2 separate regions of the Homo sapiens genome follow, and region 2 is linked to region 1. Evidence: fine-mapped expression QTL. Tissue or cell type: monocytes after R848. Region 1 holds a variant in brackets; the other region holds the start of a gene. All regions are shown on one strand. Distances are between the middles of the regions.

Region 1 (2,500 bases):
CAGAATCCGCTCACACGCCCACTCCTCTCAGGAGCTGTCCTTGACCTTCTCAGGTCATTAGCTGTTCCCTCGTGTCCTCATGTCACCTCTGTACAAGCATGCCTCCCCACCACACATGCAAATACGCACACGGGCACATATGCATCCAAGCACACGCGTACACACACGAGCACACGCACATCCCTCCCTCCTGGACAGGACAGCTCATCTCGCTGTAAATATATGTTATGACAAATCATACGTGTCCATTATTTTACAATTCAAACAACGCAGAAATGCATGAGAGGAAACGCCTGCAGCCACATCCCTCTCCCCTCCCCTCCTTCCTCCCTTCCTGGTAAGCACTCACCCAGATTTTTGCTTGTTTAAGCAAATGAAACCATATTCTAAACATTGTTCTGTAACTTGATAAATGTCTAATAACCTGTCACAACACCTTTCCATCCTTGGCTCATTGTGACAATTCACAGAATCTGGGTTTGGGCCAGAATTGGTCAAGCCACTCCCCTCTTCCACAAACATTTAGGTCACTTAAGTCTTTTCAGATTTTTTTTTATTGCTATACAAATAGGTGCTTTGACAAACACACCACCTCAAACCTCCCTTAAGCGGGGAGCTGAATTTCCCATGACTTTTGTTGTCCTTCCTACCCCAGAGCCTGGCCAGGCTCTCCGTGTGTCTTGTTTGATGCGTTTAGACGAGATGATTTCAGAAGGCAGTGGGAGGCACATTTGTCAAATTGCCTGAGTACTGGGAGAATCAGTGTTTACATTACAGGACTGAGGCCGGGCACGGTGGCTCACACCTGTAATCCCAGCACTTTGGGAGGCCAAGGCGGGTGGATCACAAGGTCGGGAGATTGAGACCATCCTGGCCAACATGGTGAAACCCCGTCTCTACTAAAAATATATAAAAAAAAAGAAAAATTAGCCAGGCATGGTGGCATGCACCTGTAGTCCCAGCTACTCAGGAGGCTGAGGCAGGAGAATCGCTTGAACCCAGGAGGCGGAGGTTGCAGTCAGCTGAGATTATGCTACTGCACTCCAGCCTGGGCAACAGAGCAAGACTCTGTCTCAAAAAATAAAAAAATTAAGAAGTTTAAGACCAC[T/C]CTGGGCAACAACATGGCAAAACCCCATCTCTACAAAAAAATACATCACCAAGCTGGGCTTGGTGATGCATGCTCGTAATCCCAGCTACTTGGGAGACTGAGGCGGGAGGATCAATTGGGCCCGGGAGGCAGAGGCTGCAGTCAGCCGAGATTGAACCACTGCACTCCAGCCTGGGTGACAGAGTGAGACCTTGTCTCAAAAAAATTACAGGACTGAGTGAACAGTCAGGAAGTTGGGAAAGGTTACCCTCTTGGCATCGTGTCGGGGGGTTGGAAGGATGATGAGGGAATGAAACCCAGGCAGGTTGACTGAGAAGAAGCTGCTTTGGGAAGGACGACAGATGTGGGAGTGGGGAGAGAAGTGGCCATGTCATCCTAGAGGTCACACGATGTCATTTAAAAGGTAAGCAGGGCCGGGCGCGGTGGCTCACGCCTATAATCCCAGCACTTTGGGAGGCCGAGGCGGGTGGATCATGAGTTCAGGAGATCCAGACCATCCTGGCTAACACGGTTAAACCCAGTCTCTACTAAAAAAAAATAAAAAAATTAGCCGGGTGTGGTGGCGGGTGCCTGTAATCCCAGCTACTCGGGACGCTGAGGCAGGAGAATGGCTTGAACCCAGGAGGCGGAGGTTGCAGTGAGCCAAGATCGCGCCACTGCACTCCAGCCTGGGCGACAGAGTGAGATTCCGTCTCAAAAAAAAAAAAAGAAAAAAAGAAAAGGTAAACGGCGAAGCCTTGCCGAGTTAGGGCGGCAACACCAAATGGGGAAAGCAATGGATGACCCTGTGTACGGCCAGAAGAGGCCAGGACTGACCTTGTAGTTCATCCTGTCCTTGGCCAGCCGAGGGATGAGCCTGGCTACGTTGTAGATGTCGTTGACCAGGCCCTCGATCAGTGCCAGGAAGCCGCGATCTGAGCCCACCTCCAGGGTCGGGTTGAAGGTCAGCCCATCCTCGTCCAGCTCCATGCGGATCTCAAACAGGGGAGCGATACTCTCCTGAAAGAGGGGTGGGGTTGGCAGTGGTCAACACCTCTGTCCTCCATCGGATGATTCTCAGTGCCCTGATCATCCACTCCGTACCATCAATGTGTCACTGCCTTCCACTTATCTGGGAAGCTTCTGAGAGCTCGTGTCTCAGCGCACCCCGCTCCTTGAGCAATCGCTACAGAGCCAAATGTACAGCCACAAGGCCAAAAGCAGGCAGGGGCAGGTTGGGGCAAGGGGAGGGGCAGGATCAGGTAGAACTCAGACCTCGGTTCAAAGCCCACACCTGCTACTTGCCAGCTCTGAGGCCTTGGGGAGTCACTTAACTCCCAGTTTCCCCAAATATATAAAATGAGGCTAAATATTTTATAGAATGGAGACATTGTTGGCTAGGCGCAGTGGCTC
Region 2 (3,024 bases), 41 kb after region 1:
GGCTCTGGCAAGAGGCCTGAGGTGGGGGCCTTGGAGGCGAGTTCTGCAAGGGCAGGGTTGAATGCAAAGGGTCGCCTGATGCTGTGTTTTCATCACAATCTGGGAGGTATGCAGCTCCTGAATTTCAAGGGGAACCCTGGGGTATTCAGCTGCTCTGGGGGTCCGTGGGCTGGGGCTGGCCTGCTCCAGACCTGGCAGCTGCTGAAAAGCATCAGGGTGGACAGATGACGTTGGAAGCACTCACAAATTCTGCCTTTTGGTTTGACCCAAGCTATTGCTTTTAAGTTTGTAACAGCCTACAGTTCCCCAAAAGACACGTAATACCACGGAACAGGTTTATTTCACCCTGGCCACTATATATCGGCAAAACAACTATATGATGGGAAGCAGTAGTGGATAGCATTTGGATGCTATTCAAATGGTCTGAGATTTATTCAAGGCTCCAAACATCTCTGAGAGAGGACTTGGGGAATATTTGGCCAGCAAATGGCAGAAACATGGCGGTCCACGAGCAAAGCCACCCGATTCAGGCACATCTGTGAAAGAAAAAGGGGACACCACCAGGCAAGTAGGAGGAGCACCGCGTGGCATTTATGGAGATGACTCGTTCACCAGGTTCCCACAGGGCTTTCAGCATGCTGCTGAATTAATCTCCACCCAGGATCTCCGAGACCCGGGGACGCGTCACGTCGTCATTTCCTAGGGGGATCAGGAACTCAGGGGAGCCCGAGTCCTGGAAGGTTCCTGATTGGAAGTCTCGCCAAGCTGGTCAGGCGACTGGACTGGAGGGAAACATCCTCTGGTTTACTGATTTTGTGGATTTGGGCTTTCACAAAGTCATCTTTTCTTCCAAGAACGGCATGGGGTGGGCTGCCTCCCAAGCCATAACATGTGTGGGCTGAGGGGCCCCTACACCCCGCAAGTTTCTTGCACGATCGGGAGGTCTCATCTCAGGCTCCCACCCAGCCGTTTCCTGGGCTGAAGGCCAGGAGGTCCCAGTTAACAATAGGGTTGTCCCAGGCCATGCTTCCGGAGGGGCAGAGACGGCTTCTCTGGGAGGTGGCCCATGCCCCAGGCCTTCAGGACTCCACAGGAGGAAGCTGGGGCTAGGGGCTTCCAGGAGAAGCCAGGGGGCTGAGGCAAGGCCTTCCCAGGAGCAGGGAAGAGTCTGGAGCCCTGGAAGGGGTCAGGCTGGTACGTGGCAGCCAGCCTCGGGGTCCCAGAGCCATGAACAGCTCCCGGTGGCGAGCAGAGCCACTTCTGGGGTAAGTGGAGGGTCTGCTGTCTGCCAGGGCCTAGGTCCCACCTCCATCCTCTGAAGGCCTCCCTGCTCCCTCCACCTTGGCCTCCGACTCCCCCAGCATGGTTGAAGGCCGCTCACCAGCTGAAGGCAAACAGCTTCTCCCGCAAACTGATGAGCAACTCTTTCCCAAACCAGGAAAGAAAATGGCTCCCTTCCCTCGAGGGGCTCCAACTGCCACATAACTTCTGGGAGTCTCCTCACGGTACCTGGGGCTTCTAGAACCTTCCCCTTGGGACCCAAGTAACCAATGATAGCGCAGCAAATGAGGAACCAACCGTCACCCCACAGTGGAAAGGCTCTTAGATGATCATTTTGAGGGGAGGTTGGAGGGGGGACAGGGTCGCGCTCTGTTACCCAGGCTGGAGTGCAGTGGTACAATCATAACTCACTGCAGCCTCAAACTCCTGGGCTTACGTGATCCCCCCCCCTCAGCCTCCTGAGAAGTTAGGACAACAGACGCACATCACCACACCTGGCTAATTTTTGTACTTTTTGTAGAGATGAGGTCTCACTCTGTTGCCCAGGCTGGTCTCAAACTCCTGGCCTCAAGCAATCCTCCCAAAGTGGAAAGGAAGACATTATCTCTGTTTACAATAAGGTGATCTTGTATGTAGAAAATCCCAAGAAATCCATAAAATTGTAGAGCTAATAGAGGAATTCAGCAAGTTTGCAGTATACAAGATATTTGAAAATTAATTATATTTCTCTGTAATTATATTATGAACAATCTGATGATGAAATTTAGAAAACAATTGTCCCCATAATGAACAATCTGATCATGAAATTTAGAAAACAACTCCCATTTACAACAGCATCAAAATAATTTCGTTTACAATAGCGTCAAAAACAACAAAATACTTAGGAATAAACTTTAAAAAGAAGTGTTAAGACTTGTACACTGAAAACTGCAAAACATCATGGAAATAAAGACAACCTAAATCAATGGAAGGACATGCTGTGTTCATGGGTTAGAAGATTGTTAAGACGGGCCAGGCGTGATGGCTCACGCCTGTAATCCCAGCACTTTGGGAGGCCAAGGCGGGTGGATCACGAGGTCAGGAGATCGAGACCATCCTGGCTAACACGGTGAAACCCCATCTCTACTAAAAATACAAAAAAATTAGCCGGGCGTGGTGGTGGGTGCCTGTAGTTCCAGCTACTCAGGAGGCTGAGGCAGGAGAATGGCATGTACCTGGGAGGCGGAGCTTGCAGTGAGCCGAGATCCCGCCATTGCCCTCCAGCCTGGGAGACAGAGTGAGACTCCGTCTCAAAAAAAAAAAAAAAAGAAGATTGTTAAGATGACGACAGTTCTCCTCAAGTTGATCTGCAGATTCAACACAATCCTTATCAAACTCTCAGCTGCCTTTTTTGTAGAAATGACCCTAGATTTTATAGGGAAGTATGAGGGAACAAAAACCATCCAAACAACTTTGAAAAAGAACAAAGTCTGAAGACACACACTTCCTGATTTCAAAACTCACTACAAAGCTACAGTTATCAAGACAGTGCTACCAGCATAACAATAGACAGAGATCACTAGAATAGAATTGAGGTTCCAGAAATAAATGCATCCATTTATGGACGATTGAGTTAGCAAAGGTGCCAAGACAACTCAATGGGAAAAGAATCACCTTTTCAACAAATGGTATTGGAATAACTGAATACCCACATGCGGAAAAACGAAGCTGGGCCCTTACCTCACGCCATCTACACGAATTAAC

The links. PIP is the estimated chance that this variant, and not a neighbour inherited with it, causes the effect.
Region 2: DNAH17 starts here. The variant in region 1 is fine-mapped to the expression of DNAH17 in monocytes after R848 (Quach 2016, PIP 0.95).

The regions. Positions count from the first base shown.
Region 1 is chr17:78,535,375-78,537,874 of GRCh38, forward strand. DNAH17 (dynein axonemal heavy chain 17) reads right to left here. Exons shown (of 81, transcript NM_173628.4): 19 at 1,925-2,107. Among named protein-coding and RNA genes, the nearest start is that of DNAH17, 41 kb to the right of the region's middle. The variant T/C (reference allele first, on the strand shown) is at 1,109.
Region 2 is chr17:78,575,914-78,578,937 of GRCh38, forward strand. DNAH17 (dynein axonemal heavy chain 17) reads right to left here and starts at 1,483. Exons shown (of 81, transcript NM_173628.4): 1 at 1,382-1,483.